2 separate regions of the Homo sapiens genome follow, and region 1 is linked to region 2. Evidence: fine-mapped expression QTL. Tissue or cell type: whole blood. Region 2 holds a variant in brackets; the other region holds the start of a gene. All regions are shown on one strand. Distances are between the middles of the regions.

Region 1 (8,337 bases), 75 kb before region 2:
TAATAACAACAGCACCAACATGTACATTGCACTGTGCCTGTCTTATCCTTCTGCACTATGGTGAAGTGCTTAAGAAGTAAGGATTGGAACCAAACTGTCTGGTTCAAACTCCAGCTCAGTTCATTTCTAGCTGCTCAACGCTGGCCAAATCACTTCGACTCTCTGGCCTTCAGTTTCTCTCTAAAATGCGGATAAAAGTGGTTACAGGATGCAAATGAGCCAGATAGTTAAAATAAAGCTCCTCGGCACAGTGCCACACACAGTGCCTGCACCACAAAAGCAGGTTACTAGTATCTTCCCATTCTTAATCCTTGCTCCTTTTGTCAATTTGGTCAGCCTGGAAAAGTATCAGATTTGCCGGTTTTCACCCTGCCTGATGGGCCAGGGCTAATGGTCTCCAGTTGACGTTTTAGAGGGTTCTCCAGTCTCACTTCTCAGGGGAAAAGTGAAAGTGGCATCATCATAGAGAAGAAAAATCTAGAACGATCCACACTCCAAGTCAAGACAACATCTACCAGATAGGACAAGGCAGAGAAAGGGTGAGATAATCCTCAGAGGAGGACTTTGGCTCCTAAAATCCCCAAATAGTATTTAGCTGGAAACTTCAACCACTTCATCAACCAAAAGTTTCAGAAGAAACCAAAAGAAAGCTTTTTCAGGATCTGGGGTCCTCCCTACTCTTCACTGTGTTTCTCCCTCTTGTGGAAGTGCTAGTACACAGACATTGGCCACAACGAGGATGAAAAAGGAAGTAATGGATGGAACAGAAAAAATTGCCCAGGCTGCAAAACTCAAATCCAGCTTTGTGAATAAAAAGCTGTTTTTTCTGAATCTGCCATGGAGAAATGGTAATCTCAGTGAAGACAGCTAGATGATTATATTGGAACCTTTATAGAATGCCTCATGAGAAGATGGTTACATGTAAACTTCACAATTAGAATCTGCTAGAACTCATACGCCTATCACATTCCACTCTATCCTAGTAATAACTACACCAAAGACCTTTAAGGATGTGTTGACCTCCTTCGTTTCTAAGTCAGTCTTGATTCATCTTTCTCCTCCTATCAAGGCCTCCAGAAAATGCATCTGGTAGCTCAGTGAAGACATTTGCTCTGAGAAAATACTTGTTCCTATGGATGGGACACAGTCTTGCATGGATGGGTTTGTTACTTCTGAGGGATCCACCCAGTACAATCATCAAGTCAATCCAGAAACTCATACAAATTTTAAAATTTCAAGGCCAGAGGTAATCTCATCTCTATTTCATAAAAACCAGTAGGGTTTTTATTTGTTCAGAAAAGTCTCCTTTACTTTTCTGAAAGGAGTCTGTTTCAAATCTGCTTCTTTAAAAATGTATAACACTCCTCAATACCTCCAAGAAAAAAAAAAAGTCTGCTGTGCAGACGGGAAGGTGAAAAGAGAAGAATTCATATTTATTCACTGTAAAAAGTTGGGGTGGTAAATTAAATCTTCACATCCCTTTTGATCCTATTATATTTTTAATGGCAGAAGCTCCCAGCGAGGGCTCGAGTGGGATGCAATAGAAGTTTTAACATTCAAGGGAGCAGATGAACTTGCCTCGGTTTGTGTGACTGAATGAGAAATTACCCAGCGCAGCTCTGCTCAGGGCAATAGGTCCCTTTGCCTGTGCTGGATTTGGGTCAAACAGCTAAACCTCAAATCAGAAAATATCAGCATCATTTTGTGGGGACACAGAAGTGTGGGTAACAATAATGATAATCAAACCTGATCAAAGATGCCATTTCCTGAGCAACGGAGCCAGTTGCTACACTCAAAAGTCCATTATTTAGAGGGTGACTGTTCTACGCAAAGATCTATCACACTCCCCTGGGACACAGACTTCTCAAACCAGCTTCATCGAATATGAACTATATCATCAAGAAAGGGTCTGGTTATTTTCTTCCATCCCCTCTTTTGATTCTAGGTATTGATAAAATAAATTGACTCCTTAGTCCTATTAGGAAGTTCTGGGAATGTTTCCTTGACGAATTTTCTTCACTCTGGCTCATCTAAATTAGAATGTTTGTATTAAAGATAAATGAGAAAAAAATTAATGAGGTCGAATGAGAAGGTTTATAAAGATTTGTGAAAGGCACATGGAGCTCAGACATCATTAAAGAGCAGAACTCATTCTCAAGTTTCCTATCCAGCATGATATCCACTGCTATCTCTGTGGCCACAGAGCCTGGGAGTGGCAAAGTGGCTTCTCACTGAGGAATCGGACAGGCATGTTTCTATATCACGGTGAAAGGAAAAGAAAAGGAAAAAACCCCAGACAGCAAACAGAGATTGTGACAAAGATAACCACAAGGAATGTAAATAAAATATGATAAGCAGCTCACTCACCATCTCATCCTCAACAGCTCTCTCAGAGGCAAAAGTAAAAACATATAAATTATGTGTTTTCAAGGAGAGTCAAGCAATACTCTTTGGGAAGAAGCCACGGATATAAAAAAATTTTTCCGCATTTGTCTCACTTCTCTAATCTCAAGGCTTGAGATGTATGTACTTTCAAAAGAGACTCATCGAAATTTGGGCAGCATGAAGTTGAGCCCCCTGTTGGTAAGGACCTTCCAACAGTGACTCGGTCTTATTGGTGATAAGCCCTGTTTATATGAGCTTTCAAAAGCCTAAAAACAGGTTCTTTCAACATGACACCTTGAAATAAAATAAACGCATTGCAAACACCAACTGCAATAAACCAGGCTCACGCCAAAATGCACACGTGCACATTTCACAAAATAAGGGGGAGACATTTCTAGTGAGGAGCAATCTCTATGGGAAGGCAAGCGAGAGCGCCCACCTGCCAAGGGTCACATGCTCCAGAGCGCACAGGATTCCCTAAGTGAAACAGGCCGGTAGGAAGAACTTGAATAGTCAAAAATCTACAAACTCTTCAGAGGTACAGATCATCAGGCCATAAAAGCCACCTCAAGGAATTTTGGTCACATCTCTCTAAGGACTTCCAAAAGCTACCCTCTGCACTTGAACAGGAAACCTGCCAGCTCCCCTCAATCATTCTGCTCCTTTGGAATAGAAGTTACGCCTTTAACCGAAGGAGAACTTCAAATGCGCCACTGGTATCTGGTGCCACTGCCAAAATATATTTACATCACCTTCTATCAGTCATTCAGAGCCCAGTGCTGATATTCTCTTAGTAAGACAAGGAGGGGGTTAGGAGGTTGGTCATCCACCTCCTCATCTGCAAGGCTAAATGCAGGTTTTCTTGTTTATTCTACTTGAGACCCTGGGGAACTGGTCTGGTGTCTCAGGCTCTGATAAATTGAACACACTCCCCGCAAATCATGGCCCAGGGAGCTTTGGAAAGGAGCTGTGGGGCATCTGTTTCTGCTAAATGCAATGCCCTCTGCGGGTTGTTCCTCTGTATGAGGACTCCTAGACAAAGGTTAGCCTCTCCCTGCATCTGAGAAACTGTGCTTGGGGCTGTAAATGTTCATTGAGAAGCCTCCAACCTAGCCAGGGCCTGGCCTCATTGTCCTAAGTCTTCAGATGCACTCAGCCTCCAATGGTGCTGTATTTTACCAGTTAAACACGTCTTCAAAGTTTACTACGAAACAATGTGGCTCCTAGCTTGCCAAAAGTTTAACTGCAGGATTCAGTGGATTTTATCTGGCAGAGTAGCTGCCGTGACTCTTGACAATATTTGCCAGCAAAAGGCAGTCCTCAAACCTTGCAACCAGGGCAATCCCAAGGCCCAACGTGTCACTGAAGGAGTTCTTCTGGGAAAGGTCCCTCTTTCTCTTCAATCGCCTCCCGCAAATCCCCAGCTTCCAGAATCCAATTCAAGGCAGTCTGGCATTTCAGGAGACAGCAGTAAAAAACTTTTGATGGGATAACCCAGGACATAAATATTCCTGGCTGAACCTACTTTTGATTCTTAAATATCTGAAGGAGCTTGGGTTTAAGGAAGATAAAGGGAGAGAACCAATGAATAGGGAAAAATAAAATAAGTAGCATACCATGACCAAGCCAAACCAAGCTTGATATTTCCACATTATATTGGCAAATGGATGCTTTCACATATCACTTGTTCTGTCTTTCCTGGTGACCACAAAAAAAAAAAAAAAAAAAAAAAAATCTGGCTTCAAAAATCCTAACCCCAGACCACTGCATTGTGTCAGTGGAATGCAATCTAAATTGCCAGTCAGAAAGTCCAACCTTATATGTACCAACCAACACGCACACAAGCACCTCCAAGCCAAAAGTTGTAACGCCTGAACCCGTGCGTTTATCAATTTCATCATCCCCATACCCCTGCCGGGTTCCTGGCGCTGGGTAAACCGACAGCATCATGTTGCCATCGATGCGTCTTACAAGATGGTTTTGGGCAAATCCCCTAAAGTAGGCAGAAGCAAAAACTAGGTTCCTCTGCCCGGGCACCTCCTCCTCCAGGCTGGCCCCCGGCTCCCGGGTGCCCCTTACCTGCAGGCGCTCCGTGGCCGGCTGCCACATCTTCCAGCCCTGGGTTTTGGCAGAGGAGACGCTGGCGAGACTGTCGATCGCGCCGGGGGGCGAGGGGCTGGGGTCCCGCTTTACATCTGGGGTCGGTGTCCGCGGGATGTGCGTCCTGGCGCTGGCCACCGCCGCCGGGTGGGCGTAGGGGGCTGCGAGCAGGAGGAGGCGCGGCGCTCAGCTGCCGGCAACTTGTGGGCACGGCCGCGCGCCGGCTGTCCTGGCGCAGCTGCGAGAGGACTGCGCAGCTCCGCCCGGGCCCGGCGAGCGCGCGGCGGCGGCGGGGGCGGCCGCTCCCTCCTCCCCCGCCGCCGCCGCCCGGACCTGCGCGCTCTGAGCATGCCCGGGGCGGGCGCCCAGGGGCCGCGCGGGGCGGGAGTGCAGCGCGGCCGACTCTAAATCCTAGTGAGGGGTGAATGGGGAGGCTAGAACAGCCGGCCCTTCCCTGCAGGAAGCCCCCATTGGGTTGGGGTCTGGGAAAAGGGACAGACTGGCTGAGGGGGGAAGGGCCTGGAGCCGGGGGTGGTGGGGGCAGCGGGGATGTCGGGGGTGGCGGGGGTGGGGGAAATTCCTAAAATAAGGAAACCGTAGCCCCGGGGGTCCCGGGTTTCCATATAACAGGCATCTCTGAAGTGCCTGTGCTGTGCCTGGCGCTGTGCTAGGGAGACACTTCCATTCATTCTTCCCACTCCAGTTAACTGAGCATCTATTAGGCTCCAGCCCCTATGCTGGGTTCTGAGGATGCAGCGACGCAGAATAGAAGACAAGAGAATGTTCCTTCTCTCTGGAGCTTACCTTCTGCTTTGGAGAGAGAGTCGTGACTGAGCAAACACATCAACAAGCCGGTGCTATATCGGGTGGTGATAAAACAGGGCAGATGTGGGAAGAAGGGGAGAGGAGAGCTTCTTAGACAAGGGCCCTGGGGAATGCCTGGAGTAAGACCTGAGAGATGAGAGGGATTGGCCACGAAGAGGCCATGCTTCATGATGGGGAGAGGACTCGACTCCTAACCTATACAGGGGTGAGGAGGGCCATGCAGACTCCCGAATCACTAACTCATCCTGAGATCTGCCAGGTGCAGCAGGAGGCTCTCAGAACCCAAGGGAAAGCCGCTCTGGGCTCGCAGGCCTGGAGGCTCCCCGGCTAGTGCCGGCCACCATGAGATGACTTCCTGTCCTAAACAGGCCAGCCCTTCCCATTCTCTTGACAACTCGGCAAAATAACTATTAATATTTTCACCATGTGGATCAAACAAATGAGGCTTATAAGGTTTAGGTCACTTGTCCAGGTCACACAGCCAGTGAGTGGCTTAGAGAGTGCACAGTCAGATGACTTCAGGGCAGGAGATGTGGCCCTGCGCCTCTAACTGACCATGGAAACCCAGTGGAAAGAGCATCCGTCTAGGGCTGGGGGTTAAAGGCACTTGGCAAGTCAGGGATACTAAGCTGATTCTCGAGCTGATGAAGAGTGGGAGAGGAGAACATGGTGGGAAGAACTCAGGACATAGAATGACCAAAGAGAGGAGCAGAGAGAACACAATGTTTGTGGGGAGCCCTAGGCTCCTACAAGGCAGGGTCCTGAGAGCAGAGGGGTGTGAAAGAGAGGCATTTCATACTGAGACAGCTGCACAGCTTGGGCCGTGAGCTACTCATGCAATGTCAAAATCCACACTCCATGTCTGGAAGGAGGATCTGTCCATTTTCCTTGTTCTGCATGACTACAATGATTTCCAGATATGGAACCACTCCAGAATCTAACCCTCAGCTCATCGGACCCTCGCAGCAACTCTCCGTGGGACAGAAGCCCCTATCTCCCAAGGCTTGGGGAGCACAGGGTTCACAGAGTCACACTGTGGGGAGTTACAATGGCGATTCAGATCCAGGATTCCAGGCAGATCCTTCTGGACCCTGCGGTTGCTATGTTGGTGCCACCAGCCTTGGCAAGCCCAGGACCCTCAGTGCCTCTAGGAGCCTCTGGCAAAGCCACAGAGCTGCCTCTGAAGAGCTTGTCTCTGTCTCCCTGGATATCCACAGGACCCTCCCACTCCTGCCTGATAACCACCTGAACCTTCTCAGCTCCTTCTCCAGTTCCTGCTACTTGTTCTGAACTTATTAATAAATCTCTTTTCATGAGGTGTTTGCCTGTCAGCCCGCACAGACATGTGCCTCACATGCTTGGTGATATGGTCTCTGTTTGCTTTTCCGGTAACTCCTCCTGCACACCTCCACACCTACAAAATTCCTTATGACCTTCCCAGCCCCCAGTTCTCTTTTATCAAATCCCAAAGTAGAAAGAAATGCAATTCATTACAAAAATCTAGAAAATCCAGACATGCATATAAACCCCACCCCCCAACCCCCCCAGGAAGCTAAAACAGGAATATTCAGTTGCCAGGGATGTCTTCAGACTTAAGCTCTGAAACCATCCTTGCTTGCAGATGCTTCCGTGGAAAAGTGATTTTGTTTTAAATAGCAGTGGAATGAGTTAACGGCCTAAATTCAAATCGCATTAGAGCGTTAAATCCTGTCTTCTCACCTCCAAACGTAATTAATTGTTATGACTCAGTAATACAGCTTTTAGTACGGAGTATGGTGCTATTTAAAGAGAAAAAGCTTTGGCTCTGTAAAGATTGCTTTCAGTTACCGTTCCCACTTTGCAAACAGATTTGGTAAAGTAAAGAATGTATTTAAACTCAAATGGCACTCCTGTTTCAATTACCTTTATGCCACGAATCAGGAAGCTAGGGGAGGGGGTGGAGGAGGGGCAATTGCAGGCTTGTGGGAGGTGACAAAAGGATGGGACAACCTCCCACTCATAGATTTTGCTCCCAAGTCTTCCCATTCAGGAGGAGCCTGCAATGAAGGGTGAATGAAATAGAGACATCTGCTGGCTAGAGATGAGACCTGCATGCCAATGTCTCCCAGCTCTGTTCTGTGACATTGGAACCTCATCCTTCCTGGTGAATCTGAAAATGCTGCCTTACGATGTAAACAGGTTTGTTCTGAGCAAGAAACCACCCTTAAAATGAGCAGAAGGTGTTTTGGTGCAATGAGTAGAAATATTAGGCATGTAAATGTGTGCCTAATTTCATGTACTTAGTCTCCTGCAATTACCGAAACAGGTCTAATCTTGTCAATAAATACCATTTGAAGGCAAATGACAGAAATCAAAAAAGCTTGACAAGGCACAGATGCGTTATTCACACATTTGGTTCAGAAAAATAATTACAGCATCCCTAGAAATTGTGTTAAGCCAGATTTGATCTAGTTCATGGTTCTGAGCCCTAGCATAAGCAACCTCAATGTCCAAGTCAGAGTAATGGTGAATGAAAGTATGGTCCAGCATATCAAAGAAATATTAAAATATTATGCAGCATTTAAAAGGATAATTATAAAGTTGTGTTGCAGCTGAAAATGATACAATTATGGTTTTTAAAGTAGGATAAAATGTATATAATTTGAATATATGTATAAAATATTTATCAATCTCAGTAAATGTTGGAAAGGAGCTAGGACAAGCAGAAGACTCAGGTTGAATCCCAGCCTTCGAACTGTCTACCTAGGTATCAGCTTTTCACAAGTCATTTGCCTTGCTGAACCTCAGATTTCTCTTCTATAAAATGGGTGATAATATTACTTAATACTTAGGATTTTGGGGAGGAGTGAATGAATTAATATGTGCAGCATGCCTGACACATGGTAGGTGTGTGGGAAACATTCGTTTTCATCCCCATTATGTTTCTTTCTCTTTTTATTATTGGAATGATCCAATTCTCACAAAGCGGCCCATGCTTCTTGTGGTTACACTATTTCCATTTGGAATATTTGTGGGTTTCAATTATTT
Region 2 (8,337 bases):
CAAACAACCAGAATGCCACTGGAAGGACACAAGGGATAAGTATGGGATTGGAGCCCTTACCAAGGTCTTCAAAGGAATTTCAAGATCTGTGCATGGTGATAAATGGTCTGTATGTCTTGACTTTGGAGAAGGAGGCCTTTTGTAAAAATAGGAGCATAGTTTAATAATATAAACCTGAAGGCAGAAGGGCAAATCCCTGAAGAATATGATGATTTATACAAGTTAGAGCTTGCTGCCCAAGAAGAGCAAAATGATGCCCCAGGGGTCACCTCTGTGCTGGGCAGTTCTCTGAGGATGCAGTTGGGAGCTGGGAAATCCATCTGAGTGAGCACAGCACATGTCCATCCTCATCACTGCATCCCTGCTATTTAGGAAGGAGAAGACTTTCTTGTGGAAGCAAGAGCCAAAAAGTTGCTTCTCTCTGTGCAGCAAAGGCAAGATGAGAGAGCAATGGCTCCCAGCCCTTTTTAGTTAATGAATAGCTTAGAAACGAACCCATGTCCAGTGCAAAGCTCAAGAGAAGCCAAGGGAAGCAGAATCTGGAGGCAAACCTGACTGGCAGATCCCACACCAAATCCTCAGGTCCTCCTCGGTCAGCCAGCTCCCAGCCACTGGAGGGCGCCCCGAAAGTCTGAAAGAGGCAAACCCAGGTAAGCAGCCTTGTTTCCCCTGATTTCCCAGAGGAATCTGAAATTAGTTATTTCAGTCTGAGAGCATTTTGCACAGAAAGATCTATTCTTAATACAAATAAATGTACAATTAATAGATAAGTTCTGGCATCCTCTAGGAGCTAGATTTGGGTTATTTTCAGTCACAACTAGATTTAAATGTGCAACTGTGCTGTAAAACTTCTCTATTTTGTTTTGCAAAACTGCTCTATTTTGAGCCTAGACTTGCGCACTTGTGAGCTCACTGCAAGAGGGAGAGAACTCTTGGAAATGCAGCAAGGGCCCAAGTCCCTGCGAGTACACAGCCCCAATTGTTGGATTCTTGGATTCAGATTCTTAAATTGTTGTGCCAATGGTTTGACAGCAGGCAAATTGATGGATAGGCTTTATGGACAATAGTCAGGGTGGGAACAGAATTAATCAGCAATTATTTGTTTTATTACCTTCTCCCTCAAGATCAGAGCCTTCCTACTCTGAGCTGGCCTGAATGTCCTGTTCATGGATCCAGCTCAGCCCTGGGCACATGGCAAGTGGTGTCTGGCTCTTTTGCCTTCTACACCGTCTTCCCACTTCCTACCATCAGATACCCAAAGCCTCCAATGAACTCCCTCCTCAACTTCAGTTCCTTAAAGACAATCCACCTGAATCAATCTATTCACCCTGAACTGTTAGGACATGGCTCAAAACTTAGCCCAAAGCAAGCACAGAACAGTTGTTGGTTGAATCAGAGTCTCCAGTAAGCAAAGTCTTGGAACCTGTCACTTTCACAGCATGGCAGTGATTCCCACAATCGGGCAAGCTTGGGAAATTCTGATATGATACAGACACATTCATTCGGAATAATGGAAATAAAGGAATTGGGTAAGGGAGTGTGTTGGGACTGGAAAGAGTTCACTGATGCTTCTTAATCACTCAGATGTGATTGGGTGGGGAGAAGGATAGGAAACAGTGTGGAAGTCAATCACTCAACAAATCATGGATGCCTCTGGTGAGTGGGGCAAGAATGAAGGTGGAGTTTCCACCCAGAAAGGCCATACAATCTAGTAGAGCAAGCATCTAAACAAAACAGAAGGGGCTGGAAGAAAAGCTAGTTATGCCTTGGGAGCAATGCTTCTGGGGATGAGTCTGCCTTGGAAGAAAACAGCTGGAAATTGGTCCTGTCATTGTGAAATGGTGATTGCCTTCAAGGGAAATACCTGAGGAATGGCATGGCCATACCCATCCTGATGGAGGCGATCCAACCAGTCGCAGCCTTTCAAGAAAGTTTCACTCTGCTGAACCCTGAAAATAAGGCCTTGAAAAGCAAACGACCCACTTGTACATCAACCATCAGCTTAACCCCCTAGTGCCTCAGGTTTACCCACTAAATGTAGAGTTAATTCTACATTTAAAGCTGTTTGGATCACAGTTCACATTCAACTACGTAATTATTTATCATCACTAGCCTCTGAGACTATTTGAGAATTAAAGTAAATCCATTTATAGCACACCGTAAGACTCCTATAAAAGACAAAATGCATGAGTCATGTCCCTTGCTACCTGACAGAGGAACAGAAGCCTTTCCGAGTGAATATTATCCTGCGCCGAAAGCTTTCTTCCCTTAATCCCCTGAATTCAGAGCTGAAGCACTCACGAGTCTCTGTAACTTGAGTTGTGCTAACATGTTGAAGTGGTAAACAAGCAGAGTTACTCATCTCTTCCGAGGCCCATTTTTTTCTGTCTACATTCCAGCTCTGTCTTCTGAGCACATGGCTGACCACTGCATGGCCAATGGAGACCAGGGCTCTTTAGGAATAAGAATGAGTTCTTATGTGTTGAGTGTGAACAATGGGCCAGGAAACGTGCTGCAAGTGCTTCCAGCTATGTGATCCCATCTTCTGTTTCTTCATAGCACTGATGTCCCACTAACCCGGGGAGAGTCATCTCTCATTCTTCCTGGGCTCCAATCATCCCATCTGTAAAGTGAAAAGAGTAATTTTCAAACTGCCTCCACCCTTCAACCACAGGAAGCCTGAGTTGGTATGAAAAGCTTGGCTATCTTTCTGAAAGTGCCTTCTTCCCACACACCCTGCACACAAAGCTCAGAGCTAATTCTCATTCTTCATCTTCTGACCTAAGACTCAGAAGGAGCTTCTCTGTGCACCCACTGTTAACGGAGGGTGCCACGCAGTTCTAGGCTCTTGGTGTCCCGAATAAAGAATTGGACGAGACAAACAGATAGCAAAGCAAAGCAACAGAAGTTCATTAAGCACAGTATTACACTTTCAGGGCAGGAGAATGGACTGGCCTCTGTGAGATGAGATCAGCGTCAGTTTGGTGAAGTTTGAGTCTTTTTACGTGTTTTTTTCTTCTCTTCCCAAGGCTGCCTAATCTCTAGCCAGTGTCTGCCTTTTGATTGAGAGGTGTGTTGTTTAGTTACTTCGGCCTCCATGCACTTGCAAGCTGCCTCTATCCCATAATTTTAAGTACATGCATGATACGCAGCCCATATGCATGAATCTTAAGTAGCCAATTATCATACAGGGTTATGTGAAGGATACTTTTTCTCTCTAATGTGCATGCCTGTCTCTGAAGCGCTGCCCCTTCCTGGTTTGGTCCAGATCCTGCTGGCCATGAGGTCCTTGCTCACTTCTCTATCTTACTCTTTGTTTTGGCTGCTTAACATCCACCTCTTATCTTGCTTCTTGCTCACCCACCCCTTCATCTTGCTTCTGCTCTCTGTTTTTACTTATTCTGCCCTTTATCCAACTTTTAATTCCCTTTGCTATTCTCCTGCCTCATTTTCCCTATTCTCCTGCCTCACCACTGTTGTTAAGCAGAAAAAGGACCCTTGGTGTAGCTCCTGCTATCCAGGGCCATGGGCAATTCCTGGTCCTGCTGCCGTGGCACTCCTTTCCTTCCCTCACATAGCAATCTTGAAAAGCTGTGAGGGAACAACTTACTGTTACATAGTAGGCATTTAATAAACATTTGCTGAATGGATAAATTAATGAAGGTCTAAATGGATGGGTGGGGGTGGATGGACAGATGATGACTGGGAGATTGGGAACATGAGCTCTGGCCTGTGTCTTTCAAACAATGGAAATCTGGAAAGCTATTTAAACACTCTAGGACTGAATTTGCCCACCTTAAAAATGGCAGTGATAAAAGTTCCTACCTCAGAAGTTTGTTGTGAGGATTAAAGGAGACAATTTAGACAAATTGGTCAACACTGTGGCCAGTATTTTGTTACCTTTAATAAATGTCAACTACTTTTATTGGAATAGTGAGCACAGGTTATCTTATTACGAAGGAATTCTTGGCCGGGCACAGTGGCACATGCCTATAATCTCAGCACTTTGGGAGGTCGAGGTGGATGGATCACATGAGGCCAGGAATTCAGGACCAACCTGGCCAACAAGGAGAAACCCTATCTCTACTAAAAATACAAAAATTTGTTGGGCGTGGTGGCACACGCCTGTAATCCCAGCTACTTTGGAGGCTGAAGCAGGAGAATTGCTTGAACCTGGGAGGCGGAGGTTGCAGTGAGCCAAGATTGTGCCACTGCACTCCAGCCTGGGTGACAGAATGAGTGAGACTCCATCTCAAAAAAAAAAAAAAAATTAGAGTTCTTGAATCACTCTAAATCATGAAAAGGCAAGACATCTACAGAATTCAGTATTTTAGATCTAGAAGCACACTGCTGACTCCACACCCCTAGACCAGTCATTAGACACTGGTGGGTCATGAGGAAGCATTTGAGAACACTACCTGCGCCTTACACAGTGAGTGCTCAGGGAAGATTTGTCATATGAATGGATGGAATGAATTGCATGAGTGAGACAATGAATGAATGAACAAATGAATGAATGAATGGACAGATGGAAGAAATAAAAAGCATAGAAGGAAAAACAGATTGTCTAGCTCAATAGTTTCATTCAGGGGTAATTTTGACCCCCCAGAGGATATTTGGAAATATCTGGAGACATTTTTGGTTGTCACAACTGGGAGGTGCTCCTGGCATCTAGTGGGTAGTGGCCAGAGATGCTACTAAACATCCTATAATGCACAGAACAGCCCTCAACAGGAAACCAT[T/C]TTCCAGTTCAAGATATTAATGGTGCAGAGCTTGAGAAACCCTGGTCTAGTTCATTGGTTTTAAAACTCTGCTCTACCATAGAATGTCTGTCTGTCTCTCTCTTTCACATGCACACACACACTCTGTGTAACGTACGTGTGTGTTTTGAAATAGATCCTCCTAAAAGCTTGATCTCAGGACCACATTGTATGTTTATTATACTCTTTATGACAAGGGATTTACAGACACGTCACTGTAAGAAAAATCATGCTATAATGAGTTAAATTGAAATTCCCCATGGGAGTCACTTTTCTGAAAGGATGCAAGAGTTGCTTGGCTCTGACATAAGGCAACCACAATATCTGAATTTCAAATTGTTAAGGGGCCTTTTGGGTTGGGAAAGCAGGAAATTGCCTTATTAAAAGATAATTTAACCATAAAGTATTTTCTGCATAGACTCATTTAATAATAAAAGGATTTCAATGTTGTGAACATTCTCATTAGTAATTTGGAGATTTTCAAATAAACCAGCAGAAAAATGACAACAATTGGTTGTCTATGGGTCTCTTCTGCCACACAGTAGCCTGGGAATGTGTCTGTGGGTTAAATTTTAATCTGCAGATTAGAAAATTATAAATGACTAGCGTGGAAATTCATCCAAGAAAAACCTACATTACAAAATCATGGAGCTGCTGATTCAGTCCAGAAGCTGAGGTTTATAAGACACTATAATTTATTTCTGCCTGAATCCCTGCAGCAGGGTCTTCCTCCCTGACCAACACATGACCTTTGCTTTCTCCCTGGCATGGAAACAACCCCAACCCTACCCAAAAGTTTTTCAGCTCCTGCCCGACTCCCAATTCTCCATTTACCCACCCTCTCTCTTGTACTTTTCTTTGGTGGTCTTGTTTTTTAAGCTCCATTATTTAAAAGTTTATATACAGTAAAAGGCATGGATCTTAAGTCTATAATTGGATGTCATTGGACAGATGCTTTTCTCTTGCTACAATCACTCAAATCCAGACACAGACCATTTTCATGCCCAAGAAATGTCCTTTGTGCCCCTTTCCCAGTTAATACCCCCACCCTCCAGAGGCAAAGACTGTTTGGATTTCTATCACCATAAATTGGTTTTCCTAGATTTGGAATTGCACATAAATAGAATCATGCCTTAGGCCCTCTGCTGTGTCTGGTTTTTTTTTTGTTGTTGTGTTGTTTTGTTTTTTTTCCTCAACATTAACGCCTGTGAGATTTAGACGTGTCACTGCATATTTCAGTACTTCTTTCCTTTTTATTTTTTAATGGTATTCTATTGTATTGGGGACAATTATAAATAAGGTTGCCATAAATATTCTTGTACAAAACTCTTTTAAACAAACACATGCTTTTGTCACTCTTGGGCATTTACCGAGGAGTAAAATTGCTGGGTCCTAGCGTTGTGCATGCTCACCCTAACCTTGCACAATGAAGCTCCAGCCTGACTCCATTGTTTTTAGTCCCTCAGAAGTGTCCGCTCTCACCCTCTGCAGCTTCACACACCCTCCCCTCCCTTCACATGGGTAATTCCTACCCATCCTTCAGGTCCTGACTAAGATGACACGTCATGAAACCTTCCTTGATTTCTATGGAATCTATTAGATTTTTCTCTGCTTGAATTTCCCACAACACCCTGTAACATTGCAACATCCTGATGCAATGACATGTTCCTAACATCTGTCTTCATTCTAGCATCTAGCATCCACAGGGCAAATGCTGTACTGAACATTTTGAGCAAAAAAATAAAGAAGTATTAAATTATACTCCAAACTATAACAAAGATGTCCAGGAGTCCATACTAGTATAAACAAGTTATTGATTAAATAAGTAACTAAGGAAGAATAAACAAGTTTCTCGTGCCAAATTCCAAACAGTTTAAGTAGATATTTTGTCCTTAAGGAAGTGGAGCAGCATCACTCCCCTCTCCTTAAGCATGGGCTACACATAGTGACTTCCTTCCAAAGAGTACAGTATGGAGAGAAGGAGGGAAAAGGTAATTTTACAGTGGAGAAGCCTAACAAATAACGACAGCTAATTCAGTTAACACCTAGCACTCGACTTACACACGCCGAGTGCTTCATTATCAATCTGCTGGACAGATGGACAGATTGAAGGATGGGAAGATGAAGAGTCTTGGGGTGGATCAGCTAGACCAGTGGTCTTCAAACTGTTCTTTGTGGGACTCATGGCTCCTCACATCCCCTCAGAGACCATTGGGGTTAGGGGTGGTGGGAAGAGGAGGCCAAAGGGCCTGGCCACCAGGACCTCTTATCCAGGTTTGATCAGAACATCTTGTTCATTTTAATCTGTTTTATATACCACACATCCATGTAGTATTTCACTGGAAGACAACATACTTTTATTAAAAAACAGCTTTAAAAGTTACTGATCTAGTGCTGAGATCCTAGGGACAGGAAAGTAATGTGACTTAGTCAACTGGTCAGGGGTTTGGGGGGTATTAAACACATACAAATAGTCTTCACTTCCACAATAACTATGCTTTTGCTCATTTTCCTTGAAACACACAGCCCACTCAACTAATGCTCATATACCTGTTTTGATGGCATGGATATAGAGAAATGTTTATCCACAAAATGAAAATAAAGCAAAACTAAAACAAAAATAACTGGGCAAAAAATATTATAAGTAGTAACTGACATTCACCTTTAGTGTCAGTGAGACAATAGGGAGTGGTGGGGTTTGTGCCCAACTATCTAAAAGGGGCAGTTTCATTTCCATTTCAGCCACTTGCTGCCATGTGGTAATAATGAAGCCATCTAGGGTCAATGAAGCAATCTTATTGTCTGAGGTGTTGAGTTCTTTGTCTCACAACCAAGAAAATTAAGGAGCACGGACACCAAGGGTGAGGTTGGAGTGAAAGTTTAATAAGCAAAAGAGGAAAGCTCTCTGCAGTGGAGAGGGTTGCCATTTTACAGTTGAATATAAATGTTTTTATAAGAAATTGTCCTTGTCTATGTAGTGGCCTGTGTAACTGCCCTTATCTGTACAGCTGTGGACATGTCTCAGGCAAGCCTCCCCCGCCAAGAAAGTTCCCACGGAGCCACCAGGTACATGTCCACAAAAGGGGAGGAAACTTTCCTGGGAGTCCGCTGATTATACAATGAACAAAGGTGTTTCTATGTTGGGGCTTGTCCCCTTATCTGTGTAGCTGTAGGTTGATTTTTCAGCCTATTTCTCTGTTTAAAACAATTCTACCAGTGACCTGTCTTAACTGTCTGCCTGTTTTTTTCCTTTCTCCTGTCTCCATATGGATGGTGCAATCACATTTCTGAGTTTTCAAGGTAAGCCAGAAAACTGATTTGTGTGAGTGGAGTGTGTATGTGTGTGTGTGTGTGTGTGTGAGAGAGACAGAGAGATCCTAATTATTAATTTTGGTTTACACATTTAAACATATGGTGTAGGACAAACAAAAGCACATCTGTGGCTCATCTAGGGCTGAAAGCCAAGTTATAACCATAGTTTAATTGCTCAGTATTAAAAATGACAGGCCGGGCATGGTGGTTTACACCTGTAATCCCAGCACTTTGGGAGGCCACAGCAGGCAGATCGCTTCAGGCG

Evidence for each region.
Region 1: PID1 starts here. The variant in region 2 is fine-mapped to the expression of PID1 in whole blood (TOPMed, PIP above 0.99).

Annotation. Positions count from the first base shown.
Region 1 is chr2:229,266,550-229,274,886 of GRCh38, forward strand. PID1 (phosphotyrosine interaction domain containing 1) reads right to left here and starts at 4,738. Exons shown (of 3, transcript NM_001100818.2): 1 at 4,465-4,738. The coding sequence starts at 4,494.
Region 2 is chr2:229,341,976-229,350,312 of GRCh38, forward strand. No RefSeq gene overlaps it. Among named protein-coding and RNA genes, the nearest start is that of PID1, 75 kb to the left of the region's middle. The variant T/C (reference allele first, on the strand shown) is at 4,743.